Regions from separate parts of the Homo sapiens genome. Here regions 1, 2 and 4 are each linked to region 3. A link means that fine-mapping ties the variant in region 3 to the plasma level of a protein whose gene starts in the linked region. Region 3 holds a variant in brackets. A gene starts in each other region. All regions are shown on their forward strands.

What was found. PIP is the posterior inclusion probability: the model's chance that the variant is causal. Protein levels are from antibody-based Olink assays in UK Biobank. Linkage for the fine-mapping came from a reference panel and not from the study's own genotypes, which makes the PIPs less certain.
Region 1: it holds the start of TREH, and the variant in region 3 is fine-mapped to the plasma level of the TREH protein (UK Biobank, PIP 0.96).
Region 2: RTN4R starts here. The variant in region 3 is fine-mapped to the plasma level of the RTN4R protein (UK Biobank, PIP 0.98).
Region 4: it holds the start of ENPP7, and the variant in region 3 is fine-mapped to the plasma level of the ENPP7 protein (UK Biobank, PIP above 0.99).

What each region holds. Positions count from the first base shown.
Region 1 is chr11:118,677,319-118,682,462 of GRCh38, forward strand. TREH (trehalase) reads right to left here and starts at 2,332. Exons shown (of 15, transcript NM_007180.3): 1 at 2,221-2,332. The coding sequence starts at 2,309. RefSeq lists enhancers at 1,562-2,223, 2,224-2,883.
Region 2 is chr22:20,266,287-20,271,425 of GRCh38, forward strand. RTN4R (reticulon 4 receptor) reads right to left here and starts at 2,032. Exons shown (of 2, transcript NM_023004.6): 1 at 1,785-2,032. The coding sequence starts at 1,806. RefSeq lists an enhancer at 876-1,564 and silencers at 1,776-1,935, 2,026-2,185, 2,236-2,295.
Region 3 is chr6:24,426,843-24,431,967 of GRCh38, forward strand. GPLD1 (glycosylphosphatidylinositol specific phospholipase D1) reads right to left here. Exons shown (of 25, transcript NM_001503.4): 25 at 1-2,276. The coding sequence ends at 2,190. Among named protein-coding and RNA genes, the nearest start is that of MRS2, 26 kb to the left of the region's middle. The variant CT/C (reference allele first, on the strand shown) is at 2,270.
Region 4 is chr17:79,728,179-79,733,319 of GRCh38, forward strand. ENPP7 (ectonucleotide pyrophosphatase/phosphodiesterase 7) reads left to right here and starts at 2,765. Exons shown (of 6, transcript NM_178543.5): 1 at 2,765-3,214. The coding sequence starts at 2,962. RefSeq lists enhancers at 1-604, 403-522, 429-723, 605-1,564, 4,684-4,733 and 1 more.

The sequences.
Region 1 (5,144 bases), not on the chromosome of region 3:
ATATAAATCCACTGGGAGAGGAAAAACTGGAAGATTGAGATTATTTTCTCCTGGACTTGGCCCTAGAATATTTCACCTTTGATGGCTTTAACATGTATCTTTTCACTGTAAGAAACCATAATCAAGGCTGGGCACGGTGGTTCATGCCTGTAATCCCAGCACTTTGGGAGGCTGAGGCAGGCGGATCACAAGGACAAGAGATTGAGACCATTCTTGCCAACATGGCAACACCTCTGTCTCTACTAAAAATACAAAAATTAGCTGGGCGTGGTGGCAGGTGCCTGTAGTCCCAGCTACTGGGGAGGCTGAGGCAGGAGAATCGCTTGAACCCAGAAGGTGGAGGTTGCAGCGAGCCGAGATTGCACCACTGCACTCCAACCTGGCGACAGAGCGAGACTCTGTCTCAAAAAAAGAAAAAAAATGAAACCATAATCATGGTATAACCATTTGGAAGTGTTAGTGAATCACTGGCCTGAGGTTGGTCTTAGGGAACACCAGTAAAGTCATCTTCCCCTACATTTGGCAAACAGCCTAATGCTTGACAAAGCACTGGACCACCCAGCCTCTCTGAAGTCCTCATTACAATTGCTCAGGACAAAACCTATTAATTATCCCAGGTACACTTTTCCCCTTTATATTCCACAATTGTCATGGGCAAGCACTGTCAACTCTCCCTGTAACACACACCCTCTATTGAACCCCTTGTCTCTGTCTCTAGTCTAACCACTGGAACCCAAGCCCAAACCTTGTTGCCTGGAGCCCCGCTCTCCCCGGACCTGTTCCCACTCTGCCCCAATCACACAGGCCTTCGTCCCAATCCCTGAACAGTGCGTCAGGGCCTCTGCATGGCCCTTTCCATGCCTGGACTGTCCTCTCCCAGATCAGCTCAGCAATGGTTCCTGCCACAATTCTGCTTACACATCACCTCCTCAGAGACACCGTCCCTCCCCATCCTCTCTAACACACCCTCTGCTCACCCACACCAGCGGGCCCTAACTTCTCTCTACTTCAAACTGTGCTTCTGTTACTGTTTTGCTTCTATTATTATTATTATTATTATTTGAGATAGAGTTTTGCTCTTGTTGCCCCGACTGGAGTGCAATGGCATGATCTTGGCTCACTGCAACCTCCACATCCCAAGTTCAAGCGACTCTCCTGCCTCAGCCTCCCGAGTAGCTGGGATTACAGGCGTGCGCCACCATGCCCGGCTAATTTTGTATTTTTCATAGAGATGGGGTTTCACCATGTTGGCCAGGCTGGTCTCGAACTCCTGACCTCAGATGATAGCTCCCACCTTGGCCTCCCAAAGTGCTGGGATTACAGGCATGAGCCACCGTGCCCAGCTGTTTTTCTTCTATTATTATTGTTCTTGCAGGAGCTGGTAAAGTGGCTGATGTGGCCACAGCTCCATAAATCCATGTGGAACGAAGGGTGGACATCGCCTGAGTCCAGGAGACAGGACAGGGTCACTCATCTCTGTCCCTGGTGATGGAAACTCAGGCTCAGGAAAGAGCCTTGACCTGCCCTGGGTCACAGAGAGAATATGAGGGTCAGGGCTCAAGCCCAAGTGCTGTCTTCAGGCCCTTAGGCTGCCTCTCACACCCAGACTAGGAAGCTGGAGCAGAAAGTTTGCTAGAACAATCCTGAGAAGAGGCCTGCACAGTTCAAGGGGCAGCTTGGAGGAGGAGAGGAAGGGAGGGCGGGCTCTGGCCAGCAGGCTCTTGGACCTCAGGCCAGGCTCTGGCAGCTGCGTCTGGTATCAGGACTGCAGGTCCCGACAGGGGGCGGTGGCTCACGCTTGTATTCCCAGCACAGTCGCCAAGCCTAATGTCCCTTCCAACGGTGGAAAATTTTGGTAAAAATCAATGACAGGCTGGGCGTGGTGGTGCATGCCTGTGATTCCAGCTACTCAGGAGGCTGAGGCACGAGAATCTCTCGAACCCGGGAGGTCTAGGCTGCAGTGAGTGGAGATGGTGCCACTGTACTCCATCTGGACGACCGAGCAAGACTCTAACAACAACAACAAAAAAAACGGACTGCAGGTGCAGTGCCCAGCACAGAGCCTGCTACATAGGAATTCTCATTTTCTTCTCTTCCCTACTCTTTCCTTCCTTTATAATCTCTTCCTTTCCCTCTGAAGTACCGACCCCAGAGCTTGAGATCTCATCCCAGCCTCCCTCTTATTGCCATCCTCCCCTGCTGCCTTCCCCACACCCCTACCTCTCACAGGGTGGGGGTAGGGCCTCCTGGGACCCCAGTCCCAGCCCCAGCAGCAGTAGCAGGCACAGCTCCCAGGTCCTCCCTGGCATGGTGGCTGTGACTGTGACTGAATGAGCAAGCCCAGGCACCTTCGGCTTGCTGGGCACAGCCTGGCTCACCTGCCTGTCCAAGTCGGCCAAAGTCCAGCCTTTGAGGCGTGGCCACCTGAGGGGACGTGTGCTTGGTCTGTGTGTGGCCCGCTTGCCCCTCCTGCTCTCAGGGCACAGTGGCCACCTCCCTTGCTTCTACTTTGCCTCTTCTATTTCACAGTCTCAGCTGGTGCCAATGGCTCAGGCCCTTCCCTCAGAGCATGGTGGTGGGGGTGGGGAGTGGGCACCCAAAGGCCAGGGACACAGTCGAGGCCACACACCTGTAACCTGGATGCCAGGTTCCTTGGGTGGCCCCAAGACCACCAACCTCAGAGAGTTACCATTTCCCTTAACATTTCAAATGGAATGGCTCAAGATCCTGTCCCTGGTGTGGTGTGAAATTCAGGGCCTCTCACTGTTATCTGCAAGAGATACAGCGGAAGCACAGGACAGTAGAACCATTCTGTCTGGGGAGGACTAAGGGAGACCCACAATAGTGTGTCATTTGTAATGAGTCTTTTTTTTTTTTTTTTTGAGACTGAGTCTCACTCTGTCGCTAGGCTGGAGTGCAGTGGCGTGATCTCAGCTCACTGCCACCTCCGCCTCCCGGGTTCAAGCAATTCTCCTGCCTCAGCATCCTGAATAGCTGGGACTACAGGTGCCCGCCACCACGCCCAGCTAATTTTTGTATTTTTAGTAGAGACGGGGTTTCACTGTGTTGGCCAGGATGGTCTCAATCTCTTGACCTCATGATCTGCTCGCCTTGGCCTCCCAAAGTGCTGGGATTACAGGCGTGAGCCACTGCGCCAGTCCTAATGAGTCTTGATGACCGCATAGGAGTTTGCCAAGGGAAATGGGCTGGAGACCACTACAATGTATGCAGAGCATGTGAAGAGAAGAGCAAACCCCTCAGCCTAGCTGCAGAGAACTTGGTGTTCATGCAGGGAAGGGTTTTGAGATAGACTGGAGGAACATGTTGGCACCAGTCTGGAAATGGTCTTTGCCAAGCCAAGGAATGTAATTCCTTGTAATTCCCCAAAGTGGAACCAGCAGAGAAGTTTGTGAGCTTAAGAAGCAGATTCAGGCTGGGTGCAGTGGCTCATGCCTGTAATCCCACCACTTTGGGAGGCCGAGGCGGGTGGATCACCTGAGGTCAGGAGTTCAAGACCAGCCTGGCCAACATGGTGAAACCCCGTCTCTACAAAAATACAAAAATTAGCTGGGCATGATGGCGGGTACCTGTAATCCCAGCTCCTCAGGAGGCTGAGGTGGGAGAATCGCTTGAACTCGGGAGACAGAGGTTGTAGTGAGCCGAGATCATGCCACTGCACTCCAGCCTGGGCGACAGAGTAAGTCTCTGTCTCAAAAAAAAAAAAAAAAAAAAAAAAGCAGATTCGGTTACTTTAGGAGGCTCATCCCCTCAACATATGGAAGGTGAGCTGAAGGGACAGGGGACAGGGGGTGGGCAAGGCACATGGAGTTTAATGATAGGCATGACCTCTCCTGAAGGACTTAGGTTTGCAGTTAAGGATGTCAGTTGTGGCACCTGAGCAGTGTTTACTGCTATTAAAAAGAAAAACCTTAGACAAATTAAATTTAACCATTTATTCAAGCAAAGAAATGACTCATGAATCAGGCACCACTCTGAACTAGTAAAGGTTCAGATAGCTCCACCCAGTAATGTGGGCAGCTGGCATTGTTTTTTTTGTTTGCTTTGTTTTTTGAGACAGGGTCTCGCTCTGTTGCCCAGGCTGGCATGCAGTGGCTCCATCACAGCTCACTGCAGCCTTGATCTCTCAGGTTTAAGGGATTCTCCCACCTCAGCCTCCTGAGCAGCTGGGACCACAGGCACATGCCACCACGCCCAACTAATTTTTAAATTAAAAATAATTTTTTTTTTTTTAGAGATTGGGTCTCCCTATGTTGTCCAGGCTGGTGTGGAACTCCTGAGCTCAAGCAATCCTCCTGCCTCATCCTCCCAATGTATTGGGATTACAGGTGTGAGCCACCATGCCTGGTCAACAATTTTTAAGTGTACAATTCAATTTCCTTTTATTACATTCACAATGCTGTGCAACCACCCTTGCATTCTTTGGATAAATCTCACTTGGTCATGATGTCTAATCCTTTTAATAAACTGTTGGTTTTGGCTTGCGAGTATTTTTTTGAGGAATTTTGCATCAATATGTATAGAGCATATTTGACTGTAATTTTCTTTCCTTGTTTTGTTTTGTTTTTTTTTTTTTTTGGACACATAGTCTTGCTCCATCACCCAGCAGGCTGGAATACAGTGGCATGAACACAGCTCACCACAACCTCGACTTCCTGGGGCTCAAGTGGTCATCTGGCCTCAACCTTCTGAGTAGCCAGGACTACAGGTGCATGCCACCACGCCTGGGTAATTTTTAAATTTTTTTGTAGAGACTACATCTGACTGTGTCGCCCAGGCTGGTCTTGAACTCCTGGCCTCAAGTGATCCTCCCGCCTTGGCCTCCCAAAGTGTTTCTCCCCAAGTGTGAGCCACCATGCCCAGCCCTCTTGTGATGTCTTTATCTGGTTTTAATATCAGGGTAATGTTAGCCTCATAGCATGAGTTAGGAAATATGCCCCTCTTCTATTTGTGGAAGTGTTTGAGAAGGATTGTTAATTCTTTAAATGTTTGGTAGAATTTACCAATGAAGCCATCTGGTCCTGGACCGTATTAGGCAGAAACAATACATATATGGGGGATGGGGGTAGAGAGAGAGAGTTTGAGAGGTAGCTGGCAAGTCCAAAATCTCTAGGGTAGGCTGGCAG
Region 2 (5,139 bases), not on the chromosome of region 3:
AGGGGAGCAGGAGGTGTGGCCTGCCAATCCAAGCCCCAGCCCAGGGCCCTTGCCACAGTGCTAGTGGGCCACCCTTGCCCATCATGCAGCATGGCATCCATCTGCTCAGCACCCTACACAACACCGGAGGTAGGGGAGCCCACCACAGAACCCCTCACCAAGAAGGTCCTCACCATGGAGAAACTGAGGCACTGGAGGCGGGGCCTCTGCAGTCACGCTGGGTCACGTGCTCCAGTCAGCCAAGCTGCAGCGGCCACCAAGGGTGCCCAGGGTCTGGCCTGTTGGTCACAGTGTTGACCTCATGGCCTGAAATGGGTCTTCCCTGCCCAGACAGGTTCCAGCCCACCATCATCTATCTGCCTCAGCCCTGGTGGGTAGGGAGTGGCTGGGAGACCCTGCCCCTCACACCCTGGGCTTTGCGGTATTCAACGAGCCCCCAACACACATTCCAGGGCCTCTGCTCCAGATTAGGCCACAGCCTGTCTAGGCACACAAGGGGCACCCACACCCTGGAGGCAAAGAGACATGCCTATGTGCCCGCAGGCACACATGATCACGCGCACAGACACACGTGCAGATGCATACCAAGTTACACACACGCACACAAGCCCGAGGCGGGGACCCCCAGGACACGGAGGCAGGCAGGCAGAGGTGGGGCCCAGGATGTCTTGCCCCTGTCTGTGGGCCTGGCCTCCCCACTCAACAGACGAGCATGTGGGTGCGGGAGTGGTTATTGCGAAAGGGGCCCCAGCATGTGCCACCCGTGGAGACCACAGCAGGCATGCCGCGTGCATGCATGTGTGGCCGTGGGTGTGCAGGCGGGGGCGAGGACACAGATATGCACCCTCAGAGTCCGTGTGTGCACCCAGTGTTTGTGCATGTGCACACTGGGGCGGCGTTGGCTTGCATGTGCACCAGAGGTGTGCAAGTGTGCAGTCCGTGTAGACAAGTGCACGTGCAAGGAAACGTGTGTGCAGCCTGCGGCACCATGGACATCAGCAGGGCAGCCTGGGTGGGCACCTGGGGAGCACCCTCCAGGCGGGGCATGCCCAACTCACATGGAGCCCACCCTCCCTTGCCCGCACCGCGGGACCTCACAGCCGGTGGGGCGGGGGAGTCCCACGAGGGCTGCTAGGGAGGGGTTGCTGATTGCCCCACCGCCCCTGATTCCCCCAGCCAAGCCTCTCAATGTCCCTCGGGCTGCAGATGGCGGGCGTTGCTGCCTCCTCTCACCGCCCGCCCTGGAGGCAGCGCTGGGACAACCCTGTCCCCCACGCCCTCTACTGCCGCCAACGCCCCCATTCATCCCACTGTGGACTGACCTCGGAGAAACGGGAGGTTCTGAGCCCAGACCGTGAGGCTGGGGTGGAGGCGGCCCGACACCCCCACCCACCCTCGGTACCCACGTTTCTGCAAAAACCCGCTCGTTAACCCCTTGGTGGCCGGGGCGCTCCGAGGCCGGGCCCCGCCCTTCCAGCCCACGGCCCCCGCCCTCGACTTGGCCCAGCATCGGGGACCCTCGGACCGCCACCCTCGGCCCTGCCGAAGCCGTCAACTTTCCCGGGAAGCGGCAACTTTTCCTGCCGCCTCCGGCTCCGCCCTCCCGGGGCCGGGGCGCCAGCGGCCCCAGCCTGGCGCGGCACTGCGGTGGCTTTCCCTGCCGCCCGGCTACGCTTCCCTCGCCTCGGCAGCCCGGGACGGGCCCTGCGGCTCCGGGGAGGGGGCGAGCCGCCCCCCTCCGCGCCCCGCCGCCGGCCGGGCTCGGGTGCAGCGCGGACACTCACCTCCAGCGGACGCCCTCTTCATCGTAGGGGTTGGGCGGGGCGCGTCGGGGACTGAAAGTCGTTTCGGGGCGGGCGCCCGTCTCCCCGCGGCCGGGTCCGCATCCAGGCGCCGCCGCTACGGCCCGGCCCCGGCCCGGCCGCGGGACGAGGCTCGGCGCGCTCCGCTCCGCCCGGCTCTGGCTGGGCTCGGGCCGCGGGTGCGCAGGGCGCGCAGGGCGCACAGGGCGAGGGCGGCGGCGGCGCGGGGGTTGGGGCGTGGGCGGCGCGGCGGGCCGGGGCGCGCAGGCCGGGCCGCAGGAGGCGCTCAGCCCGCCCGGTGCACCGGCGCCGCGCGGTCCCAGACAAAGGCGGCGCATTCCTGAAGAGGCGGCGGCCCCTGCAGGCGGCGGAGGGGATGGCGGCCCGGGCCGGAGCCGGCCGGGGACGCGGGCCCGAGGGTGTGGCGGCCTAGGCTGGCCCGGTCCCCAAGCGGGCAAGGGCTTTGTCCCGAGGCCTAGGAATGGCCTCTGCCTGACCCACTCCCTTCCTGGCCTCACGAAACCCATGAATCCCCCGCCCCCTGCACAGAAGCCCCTTGCTGCAGCACGATCGCCCCCATTTTTCAGTAAGAAACAGGCTCAGGGCTTAAGAGAGTTCTGGGGGCCCTCCTGGGCCTTTGTGGCCCTCTCTGCACCATCCTAGAGAAGGGACCTAGGCCTGATGTTACCCGTAACCCTGCAGGGGTCCCCCACCTCTTCCCTTCTGCGGAATGGGGGCTCCAAACCCAGAAGACGCTCTCCGAGGTCACCTGCTTAGTATCCCCCCACTCTACCAAGCCAGCCCCCCACGGGCGGTGTGAGGCATGGGGCCAGAGAATCCAGTGACGCCCCTGCACACACCACACAGGGGTGCAGGTGTCCCTTCTCAATCTTCTGCTCGGGGCACCTACCGGGCCTCACCGATGAGCTCCTAAGTGCATCCCGGGGTCTTCAGACAACTGCCAGGCTGCCCCTGCACCTGGAGAAGTGCTGGGAGTCAGCTCAGCCGGGCTGGGTCCTCCCCAGGCCCACCCTGCATGAGAGGACCATGCAGATGAGGGTCTTGCAGGCCCACCTGGTGTCAGTCTGTAGGACCCTGACTCAAGGACGGAGTGGGCCAGCCTGATGCCTTGATGGCCCCCCTCAGAGCCCAGGTCCACTGATATGAAGCAGAGAGACCTGGTGACTGGGCACCCCTGTGCCCTCTGCCTGCCCCTGGCCATGGAGGTGGCCCTGAGGGAGATGAGCAGGGCGCAGGGCCGGTGACCTGCCTGCCTTGTGCAGAGGAAGTGAGGACCTCCCAGAGCCCTGGTGCTCCCATCTGATCCCAGTGGCAGGCAGCTTCGCAGGGTGGAGCCATGCTGGGTGGGCCCTCTGCCTGGTGTGGAGGCTGCACTGCCCACATGCCTCTGGCTGCCGCTCTGTGGCCCTCATCACTTTGGCCTGCTTTATCCCTATCACCCTTGTCCCAGCCTAGGCTTATGAGGGCATTGTGGAGTGCATGCCATTCCCAGCCACACAGAAGGTGAGGTGGGGCCCAGACACCCCCAGCCACTCTGTCCCCTGGCCTCCTGAAGGGGTGGGCTGTGCACACACTGCCACCTCCCCAGAGGGTGCTGGCTGCCGAGTGCCACCAGCTCAGCCCCTGAGGTGGCTCAACAGGTCCTCCCAGAGCCACACCAAGACGTCATCACCCATTGCACAGATAGGGAACCTCAGGCGAAGCTCACAGAGCCAGTGGGAGGCTGAGGCCTGACCCCCAGACAAGCATTCTTCTCCAGGGTCCCTGCACACAGCAGCCCCCAGGCTAGGAACTGAGCTCTCTCCACAGGGATGTATCAGACCCTAGATGAGTCACGTGGCACTGACCATCAGTCTGAGGACAGCGCTGGGGTGGACCAGGCTCCAGTCTCGGGCTGCTCTGTGCTTGCAGAAAGGCCTTGAGAGGACACTTGCTTGCTTACTCCGCAGGCGTCTCTTCAATTACCAGTGACCCAGAGCAGCCCACTATAGCTGAAGATTGTGACCCCACACCCTATCTCATAGGTTTAAAGCCCCTCCCACCCCTCCTGCCGCAGCCGAAGTGACCATTCTGGGGCATGGGATGGGCATGGGGTGAAATGGGGAGCAGGGGTGGCCCTGGAGGCTTCTGGCACCAGCACCCTCTCCAGCCACCAACCTGGCTGTTCCCGGTTGCTCTGCGCTGGGACCTGGGCCTCCACCTCCCCACAGGTCTCTGCATGGGAGCAGGGCTGAGGCCTGCAGAGGGAGCGCTGGGGGATGGGCTGGTTTCCTGTGTCCGCCACCTCGGTCAGCACGTTGGCCAGCACCCTCCCCACTGGAAGCTGGGCCCACTCCTGGGTGCTAGCTGGGATGGTTAGGCGTCGGCCAGCGCTGATAGGGAGTTATGGGGGTGCAGAGGCAGAGTTGAGCAGGGCTAGGCAGCCGGTGGGTCTGCTACCAGCAAGGCACAGCCCACTTCTCAGGCTGCGCATGTGGGAGGGTTTGGTAAGCCACATTTTTCAGGGTGTAGCCGGGTGAGGGGTAGCATGGGGAGTGGTGTACTCTTTGGGCAGGCGACCACGGAGCCATCACCCCCCAGGGCCCAACGGGCAAGAAGGGGAGCAGCTGACGGCTGGTGAGGGGCTAGCAGGGAGGGCTTGACAAGGGCTGGAGCCCCTGGTCAAGGGGCACAACCAGTTCTATCGGGTCACCTTGTGGGAGGAGCCAGGGACCCTGTGGGCAGAGCCTGGCCGTCTGCTGCCCGGAGTCTACACCAGTCAGTTCCTAGGAAGCCCCATCAGGGGTGCTGGGAGGACAGGCCATCTGTGCCCAGCTGATGCAAGCTCCCAGGCTTTCTGGACACGTGGCCCTGGGGATCAGGAGTGAGCTGGAGACTGCAGACAGCTGTGCCCTCAGGGCCACACAGACCTGTCACACCCTGCCTGGACTGGGTCAGCAGGGCCACACGGGCATCTGCCCGAATCGTTCCCCACCTCACACCCACCATGTGGGGCACATTCTTTGCCAGCTTCCCCAGCCCACCACCCCTCTACAGTGAGGCCAGGGGCTGTCTCACCTCCCACCCACACCCACACCCAAAATGTGGGGCTCAGCCTCCACGACCAGCATGCCGGTCATGAGGGCCCTGCCCAGCTGTGTGACCTCAGCCCAGTCCCTTGGCCTCGCTGAGCTTGCACAGCATGTGGACGAGGCAGACGCTAATGCCTCAGGTCCTGGTCAGCTGGTCACCATCCCTCCTTTGTTCACCTCGCCTGTCCCCTGAGAGGATCATGCAGGGTTTTCACTCAAAACTCCAGGACTGCCCATAGAAGCCA
Region 3 (5,125 bases):
GCTTCCTTGTGCTTTTGCTGTGCCATAGGTTACTATGCAGCTAGCACATGTACCTCTTCCAGAAAAATGAGGTCATCCTGGGAGTGACCCAGAGATGCTCTCTAGGGATGTACCTCTTGATGTTCTTGTTAACTTTCCACTCTTCAGCTGGATTCCTCTTCCTGTCCCCTTTTCACCAGTCTCTACTCTTGAGAGAAGCTGAGAAGAGAAGGGCTCTTCTCATTTGTTATTTTCTCCTGCTTTTAGTATCATCTCACCCGTGGCAGAAGAAAGAGGTTCTTCCCAATTTAACACAAAATAAACTAGTTACTGTTTACAGATAATGCCCGCTAATGTTTACTGAAACTGAAACCCTATGATACATTCCATTCCCTTAAGTGTGCCACGCTGCAGGACTGACAAATGAAATCCATCCTACGAAAAACAGCCCAGGAACAAGCGAGGCCAAGGCCTGCTTTCCTCTCCGGCCCTTACAGTAGCGTGTGGCTCAGGCCACATCTTTTCCCTCTAGTTCTTTTGGCACAAGTTGTAACCTAATGCGACAAAGGTCCCTCATGAGATGGCTTAAAACTAGCAGTGTCGCTAGGCTCTTTAGGTGTTAGAACAGCCAACTCTACAAAAGTATTGGAGGGCACAGAAGGGTGATAGTCTTGGTTTTTATATTTGTCCTTCACTATATAAACATTGAAAAGGTATTAATCCTCATTAAGAAAGGATTATCGGCCAGGTCCTGTGGCTCACACATGTAATCCCAGCACTTTGGGAGGTCAAGGTGGGTGGATCACCTGAGATCAGGAGTTCGAGACCAGCCTGGCCAACATGGTGAAACCCTGTCTCTACTAAAAATACAAAAATTAGCCGGGCGTAGTATTGTGCACCTGTAGTCCCAGCTGCCTGGGAGGCTGAGACAGGAGAATCACTTGAACCTGGGAGGCGGAGGTTGCAGTGAGCTGAGATCACATCACTGCACTCCAGCCTGGGCAACAGAGCAAGACTCCGTCTCAAAAAAAAAAAAAAAAAAAAAGGACTATCATCCTTAGCAAACTAACACACGACCAGGAACAGAAAACCAAATACCAAGTATAGCATGTTCTCACAAGTGGGTGCTAAGTTAAAAGAACTTATGAACACAAAACAACACACACTGGGGTCTACTTGAGTGGGGAAGGTGGGAGGAACAGAAAAGATAAAACCTTCACATGTACCACTGAACCTAAAATAAAAGTTAAAAAGGACTAAGTCACAAGTGATTTGGAATGTGAGGTTATCCCTCACCCCCATGCTTTACTCTGTACTATTTTTCCTCCCTCAGTTTCTTTTTTTTTTTTTTTTCTGTATACTATGCTTTCTATTATACTTTGATTGGCATGGGCCAATCTGTTATTTTTAAGTTCAACTTTTTTTTAACTTTTAAGTTCAGGGGTACATGCGCAGGAAGTGCTGGTTTGTTACATACATAAAGGTGTGTCATGGGGGTTTGTTACACAGATTATTTCATCACCCTAAGTATCCATTAGTTATTTTTCCTGATCTCTCCCTCCTCCCACCTTCCGCCCTCTCATAGGCCCCAGTGTGTGTTGTTTCCCTCTATGTGTCCACGTGTTCTCATTTAGCTCCCACTTACAAGTGAGAATATGGAGTGTTTGGTTTTCTGTTCCTGCAATAGTTTATGAAGGATAATGGCCTCCAGCTCCATCCATGTCCCTGCAAAGGGCATGATCTTGTTCTTTCTTTATGGCTGAACAATTCTTTTTTTAAAAAAGGATGTTTTTAGGAGGAATTGTGTACAGAGACTGTTCTAACAGATAACCACAGAGGGACCTTTCCAGCCATTGGAAAGACATTCAAGAGGAAGAGGAAATAGGTTGTACAGCAGGTCTGACTACAGGCAATAAGTTGGGAAAGAAGAAAGGTTTAGATGCAAAGGGAGCGAGGAAGTAAACTGTGGAAGGAGACATGAGTAAGCAGAATGTCTGCTATTTCACATATTTCTGGTGCAGTCATATATTTACTGTATCAGATTTCCAGAGGGTGTGGCTGTTAGTGTGTCTCTCTACTCCCAGGAGCCCCATGTCTATCAGGATCTACCACCGCTCCACTGGATGTGCCACTTTGTCCATCAAAATGCTCACCATGGATGTGATTCAGCATGAGAGAGGTGGGCAGAGTGGGGAAATGCAGTGAAATCTTCAATCTGAGCCAAGGCTATAGACGTGAAGTGCCCCGGAGAGTCGGGCTCCCAAAGAACTCCTTCCAGCAGCAATGACGA[CT/C]TGGTTCTGTAAGGGACACAAGACAGAATTCATGGCTCATTCATAACATCTATTGAGTTCCTATGGTAGTCCAGGCATCATGCTATGCTCTAGAAATATAAAGATGAATAAGACACTGGCCAGATCCCCTGGCTTGAACTCAAATGCCACTTTCCCTTTGTTTACAGACCGCTTTCTCACATCTATAAGTTCTGAAAACCGCAGCTAAGGATGCTCACCCCAATCCCTATTCTGGCACATAAATCATAAAGGAGAAGTAGGGCAGTGCATGCTTAGTTCTGGTACAATGTGGAAAACATATCTTGAATAGTAAGGACTTCCCCTAGAAGCTGGCTTTGTCAATGTGTTTAGCGTACCTCCCACCTACCCTGCTGCTTAAAACATTTTAGGACCCATCTTTCAGAATTGCCTTCAAAACCTGCTGCAAGTTTTTAAAACATTTTCTTCTTTTTTGAAACAGAGTCTTGCCCTGTCACCCAGGCTGGAGTGCAGTGATGTGATCTCAGCTCACTGCAACTTCTGCTTCCTAGTTTCAAGTGATTCTCATGTCTCAGCCTCCCGAGTAGCGGAGATTACAGGCATGTGCCACCACATCTGGCTAATTTTTGTATTTTTAGTAGAGACGAGCTCTCACCATGTTGGCCAGGCTGGTCTCGAACTCCCGACCTCAAGTGATCCACCCGCCTCGGCTTCCCAAAGTGCTGAAATTACAGATGTGAGCCACCATGCCTGGTCTTTAAATATTTTCAGTGGTGGCAAATCTTCATACTCCGAGGTCGGATTTGATTTGTGGAAACTGACAAAAGTTATTCTGAACCAAAGCTGGCACATGAGGTACGGGTGATCAAACTGGCTGACAGTATTTTGGTCAGAGCAGGATATGACAGTTTCTTATTTAATTTTGAAAACTACTGATGAAATCTAGAAATAATAATAATAGCTAAAATTTGTGGAGGTTGTATCATGGGTCAGACACTATGCTTAGCCCTGTGCTTATCTTATCCCTTAATACCCAGTGTCAATTAATAGGGAAAATCTACACTTAAGAAAACAGCATCAAATGGTACTTTATTCTCCCTCTCTTTCCCAATTTATGGAATTACTCATTTACTAAATTTGCCTGGCCTTCGGCTTCACTCTGTTTTGTCAGAGTCTAGTCATCTTTCCAGATGCAGCTCCGGGCCCATGATCTCTGCAGGCCCTTCCCTGACTCCACCAGCAGAGACTTCTGCTGCAGTTGCTGTCTGACCTCGTTTGGCTCTTGGTCATCATACACCAAACTGGATGGTCTTGTGGGCCTGCTGTATTTTCCCACCTAGACTACAAGCACCTGGGGCTGGGACCATGTCTCAGGTTTCTTTGTCTATCTCACAGGTGCTTGATACAACACTGCTCACTATACACTAAGTTACTGCTCTGCTGAGGCTCCTGAGCTGATGGAAGGCAGCCCCATGAGAAGTTTCTGAAATACAGAGACAGTGAGAGCACTACTTACTTAAGTAGACGCCGGATCCTAATTCTAGTTTGTTACGACTAATTTCATTACTGAATGCTCTTATGCCACAGAAAGGAAGGAATCTTCAGAACATAACTTGTACCCAAATCTCAGAAAAAGGCCACTCTGATCATCCTCTGATTGTCAATGCCCATTTTTGAAACATAACATCTGATTTATCTTTACACCCAGAGCGTTCAATGCCCCCAAGCTCAGGTATGTGCTGGAAAAGTGAAGTAATTTTAACACTAACCCAGGTAAACAATAATTAGGAAGGTACATTTGCAGTGTTTTACAAAAAGGAATAAAATATAAGTTACTTTTAGATTATATATACCACTACTCTCAACTGATGTAAGCTATAGTTGATATATGTATAGTTTTATATAATACATGGGTTCTTGACAATGCCTAATTTTTGAAACAAATAAAATTTTAGATATAAGCCAAGCTTGTCATATAAAGGATCCCTGTGATCAGACCTTCCGAGAATCTTCCCATAAAGTTAATAACCATATTTTTGTTATGTGGTTAATCCTACATTTTTAGACCTGCCTGTAAATGGGTCACTTAAATTATTGGCCACTAGAGGGCAGTTTCACCACAATTTTTCCTAATCCTCTTCCTCCTCCCACCTTCCACCCTGGTCCACAGGAACCTGGTCCACAGCACTTAACAAGTCTTACAGACCTGGTTATATATATAAATCTATGAAGGCTTCTGCAGCCCTTCAACCCACTGTAAAGACTTATTCTTCAGACTACTCATTAGCATTTAATCCTATACTAATTTGCATTTTATTTGACTTTCCATGTATATGAATCTTATTTTCAAGAACAGGGACTCTGCCCTCTCTGTTTTTATTTCTTATAGCCTATACAGTGGATGAATGCAATCAGTGGTTTACAGGTATATTTTAAGGTTAAACTTTTTTTTTTTTTTTTTGAGACAGAGTCTTGCTCCATCACCCAGGCTGGAGTACAGTGGCACCATCTAGGCTCACGGCAACCTCCACCTCCCAGGTTCAAGCGATTCTCCTGCCTCAGTCTCCCGAATAGCTGAGACTATAGGCATGCACCACCACGCCGGGCTATTTTTTGTATTTTTAGTAGAGCCGGGGTTTCACCATGTTGACCAGGCTGGTCTTGAACTCCTGACCTCAGGCGATCCACCAACCTCGGCTTCTCAAAGTGCTGGGATTACAGGTGTGACCCACTGCACCCAGCCAAGGTTAAACTTTTTAATCTGCCATATCGAAATTTAAACTGTGTACACTTTTAGATCTAGCAATCCTACTTTTAAGATTCTCACCTGTGGGGATACTTGCTCAATTATAAAAAGCTACACATACGTACAAGAA
Region 4 (5,141 bases), not on the chromosome of region 3:
TGAACAGGACCAGGAATTCGCACAACCCCAGGGGCCGACAGGAGAACCTGCAGAACCACGGACCCCAGACCTGCGAGCCACCAAGATCTGCGCCGGCCTCAAGCACACCCCAAATGCACTCCAGCCGAGGCCTGGCCAGGCCCCTGGACCACTGCCTCGGCTCCTCACTCAGGCCCTGCCTCCCTGGCGGCCCTCTCGAGCCCCACCCCACAGCCAGCTCCTGCTTAAACCTAGCAATGCCCCCCAGGCCTGGAATTCTATTATCAGCTTGAACTAGGTCCCGCTGAGAGTGACAGGAAACCCAAATAATGGAAATTGCAACGAGGCAGAGTGTGTTGAATTCTCCCCGGGAGGATGCAGCCTGGAGCTGAGCTACACAGGACGCTGGGGACCAGGCCCCTTCTGTGCACCCCGGCCATCCCCGGGGAGCCCCTCATCAGGCGGCTTAGGGTGGCTTGCCAGCCAGAGGCATCAGATGGAGGAAAAAATCAAAAAAGAAGAGAAGCAAAGCTAGCTTCCGGCAAGAGGCTGGGACTGCTACAAGACATTCTCCTTTTGCCCCATTGGTCAAAATGTGGTCACGTGGCCCTGCTTTGCTGCAAGGAATGCTGGGAAATGTAGTCTTTCTTCTAGCAGCCATCTTATCATGGAAAGAGGGGAGAACAGATATTAGGGGACAACTAACCAGCTCTGCCACAGCGGAAAATCCAGATTCCGCCACGGCCTACAGGCTCCTCCTGGTCGACCCTCTCGGGAGCCCCGGTGCCTCCCTTCCTCCATGCCTGGTCCCTCTGCCTGAAGCCTTCCCGCCCTCTCTCCTGGCTCCATGCATCCTGTGGGCCTCCCACAACGCTGGTGCCAGCAAAGCCCGATCTCCTCTCCCGAGGCCGCCTGCATTCCCCCTGTGCGTGCATCGTAACCTGTGTCCCTGACTCACAGGGATCCTTACCCTCCCCAAGGTCTGTGCTCCCCAGGGAGGAGCCAAACCTCTGGGTGCCCTGAGCCCCAGCCCTGCAGAGCAGGCACCCCACGCGGTGGTTGCAGGCACCGGGCAGTCGCTCCATCCTGGTTTTCAGCTTTTGGTGCACAGAAGCATGAAGAAGAGGGGTCACTGGCACGGAGTCCTCCTTGAGAGTGTGTTCCAGTCGGCCAGGCAGGGGCAGCCGGGGATCCGTACCAGTGGTCCCTGCCCACCTGGGTTAGGAAAGGCTGGCTGGCCTGGGGAGGCTGTGGACGGCGTCTGCGGTGTCATCTGAGTGCCACGGCCATCGCTTCGAGACGGCGTCTGCTTGCTGCAGCCAGCCAAAGGTCTTAAGGAAGGCCGGGGCCACTGTCGGCAGGTGTGTGGCTCCAGATTGAAATTGTGACAATACCTCCAACCATGCCCTTCCGTCTTCCCACCGCGCAATCCAGTGCACCACCTCCCACCATGCAATCCAGCGCACCACCTCCCAGCAAAACCTCCAGGATCCGCCTCAAACCCAGCCCCATCCCACAGCCACCACCCTGGTCCGGGCCACCAATAGCTCTTGCTCAGACACAGGCAGTCACCTCTCCAGGGAGCACCCAGTGTCCATTCTGCCCTCGTTCTGGTCTATCCTTCACCCACAAATGGAGAGTATATTTTAGCATTAGATCAGTTCATGTCACTCTCTTGCTTAAAACCCCCGCCTGGCTTCCACTGCCTGGCATGAGAATCACCGCCACCTGCCCTACGGGACTGGCCCTGCCACCCCTGCCACCTGCCCCATGCCCGCTCCCCTAGCTCATGGTCCCCCAGAGTCACTGGCCTCCACCATCCTCTCAGCGAAACCCCACCAGCCACCACTGCGTGCCGCCCACCCACCCCGCCAGCCTCTCCATCACGTCTTCCTGCCTTCCCTTCTTTTGGGAAACTCTTTTTTTCTTGTTTGTTCATTTTATCTTCTGTGTCCCCAACTCGAATGGAGGCCACGAGGAACATTGTCTGTCTCATTCACTTCTGTGTCCCCAGAACCTAGAACCATGCCTGGCACACAGAACGTGCTTAATAGGAACTGAGACAGAGACATACAGGGAAGGAAAGAGGGAGAGAGACAGAGAAAGAGAGAGAAAATAAGAGAAGGGGAAGGAGAGATGGGGGAGAGGGAGGGAGAACCGCACACTGAATCCAGGGGTTCCTCTCCCACCCTTCATGTGCCTATGGTAACAAGGGAGTCCCCCTCTTCTGACCCCTTGTTGTCATCAAGCAAGAACGTCCGAGCCCCAGGCACCCTCTGAAATTCCCAAGAAGGAAGCATCCCAAGAAGGAAGCATCCCAAGAAGGAAGGCCCACAGGACGCTGGTCTGGAGCCATCCGGTTCCCGGTCTGCTCACCACGCTCAAGGAGCCCCTTAACAGGACCAGGAGGAGAACAGGCACCCAGCCTGGGGTTCCCCCCGGACAAGGCCATGCTGTGACCCAGGCTTGGTCCTGGCCCTGACCATGGGAAGCCCACCCCACAGGCCCTCACCCAGGCAGGCCTGAGGCCCATGCACCACTAAAGGCCTGGAGAGGGGGTCCCACCCCAGCCTCACCTGGGTCCCCTGGGGTCAGGGTGAGCTGGGACAGAGGGACCACCTGTTGCTATGGGAGAGGGAGAGGGCACGACTTTCCCAGTGGAATGGGCTCCTGCTGTGCTCTGAGCCCTGGGTCACTGTCCCCACTCTGGGGAGGGAGGGGAGGAGCCTGGAGCACCAAGGGCGCGGCTGGCAATAAAGGCAGATGCTCAAGTTGATGCCACCCCACGCACGTGAGGCTGGGACCAGGGGTGGCACTGACACGGCTGGGGAGCCCACTCCCGAGGTTCGACCCGGGGATGTGCACAGCCACATTCCAAAGGCGCACGGGATGAGATCAGCCCGGGTGACCCTGGGACTTTGTCCTCCTCGGCAGGAGCCAGCCCTGTGCACCCTGTGTGCCTGTCCATCTGGAAGGCCCAGCATGAGAGGCCCGGCCGTCCTCCTCACTGTGGCTCTGGCCACGCTCCTGGCTCCCGGGGCCGGAGCACCGGTACAAAGTCAGGGCTCCCAGAACAAGCTGCTCCTGGTGTCCTTCGACGGCTTCCGCTGGAACTACGACCAGGACGTGGACACCCCCAACCTGGACGCCATGGCCCGAGACGGGGTGAAGGCACGCTACATGACCCCCGCCTTTGTCACCATGACCAGCCCCTGCCACTTCACCCTGGTCACCGGTGAGTACTGCCCTGTGACGGGGCCTGGGGGTGGGAGGGCCTGAGAAACCAGATGGCACAGAGCCGTGTCGTGCAGGATAAAGGGGAGAGGTCCTTGCTCCAGGCACAGGACAGAGCCAAGGGGACCATTAGGAATCCTCACCGTTGGTAGCAACAGATCCGGGACAAAGAAAAATGACCAGGGGGGTCCTTAAACCCGTGGCCACAGCCAGGGCAGCAACCCCAGAAGGCTTCAGGAGGAGGGGAGTGTGGCGGGCTCCCCGCTGGCTCCCATGGCTCCCCTCCCCTGCCCGCCCCTCCAGCTGGCTGTGTCAGCCTCTCCCTCTCCCTTCCATCCTTTCCATTTTCCACCCAACACCTCCCTGACAGATCTGCCCAGGCTGTAGACAATACAGACATAGGTTTTTAAAAAGCCAAATATGGGGCCAGGCTCAGTGGCCCACGCCTGTAATCCCAGCACTTTGAGAGGCTGAGGCGGGCGGATCACTGGAGGTCAGGAGTTCGAGACCTGCCTGGCCAACATGGCGAAACCCCATCTCTACTAAAAATACAAACATTAGCCAGGCATGATGGTGCATGCTTGTAATCCCAGCTACTTGGGAGGCTGAGACAGGAGAATTGCATGAACCCAGGAGGTGGAAGTTGCAGTGAGCTGAGATCGCACCACTGCACTCCAGCCTGGGTGACAAAGCAAGACTGCATATAATATATATATACATATATATATACATATATATATGTATATATATATATATATACACACACATATATATATATATGAGGCCAAGGCAGGAGGATTGCTGGAGTCCAGGAGGTAGAGGCTGCAGTGAGCTGCAATCACACCACTGCACTCCAGCCTGGGTGACAGAGCAAGACCCTGTGTCAAAAAAACAAACAATAATAAAATAATAAAAAGCCAAGTACCACAAAAAAGGTGTTAGAGAATTGAAAAGCAATTGGCCCTCCCTAGGGGCTCAGCCACCTCCCAAACCTGCGTCATCCTCCAAAGACCCTGCGTGGGTGTCCCAGGGCGCCTGCAACAAAGATCTGCAGACTGGCTTAAACCCACAGAAACGGATCCGCATGCTTCTGGAGGCCAGAAGGCCAAACCCAGGGCATTGCAGGGCTGCACCCACCCGGAAGGTTCCAGCAGAGGCTCCCTCCTCACCTCTTCTGGCTCCTGGGGCCTCGGCAATCCTTGGCATTCCTGGGCTGGCGGCAGCATCACTCCGACCTCTCCCCACGTCTCCCCAGGGCCTTTCCCCTGTGTGTGTGTGTCTGTATTCAAACTTTCCTCTTCTCACTAGTACACCAGTCGCTGAATTTCGGGTCCACACTTCTCTGGTATACATCCCCTTACCCTAGCTAATCACATCTGCAAAGACCCTATTTCTAAATAAGGCCACGTTCTAAGGTTCCAAGTGAGCATGAATGTGGTGGGACACCATCCACCCCAACACAGGCAGCTCATCCCCACACCAGCCTTTCTGCCCCTTCTAACCGCAAACGGAGGTGTGCGGGTCTCCCGTCTGCGCAGCGCCTCTTTTGCTCTCTGTATCGCAGATGAGGACGGGAGGGACCTTCTCCACATCATCTCTCCTTTTGCACCTTTTGGACTTAGTACCATGTGCACGTGTTTCCTGTACAAAAATAAATTCAAAAAATCTCCTGGAGCTCCACGTAGTTCACTGAAATTCCTGCCTGGGATCTCGTCTGATGGCTGGGCCATCATTTATTTAATGAGTTCCTTCCTGACGGCCGTGGAGGTCACCCGCAATCTTTTGCTAAAGCAAACAAGGCTGCCACCAGGATCCCTGCACACGCATTCGTGCCTGTGTGCCCGTCCAGCTGTGGGACAAACTGAAAGTGGAAGTGCGATTGCTAAAACAGGTCAAAGAACACGTGTCTATTTGTCTCAGACATGACC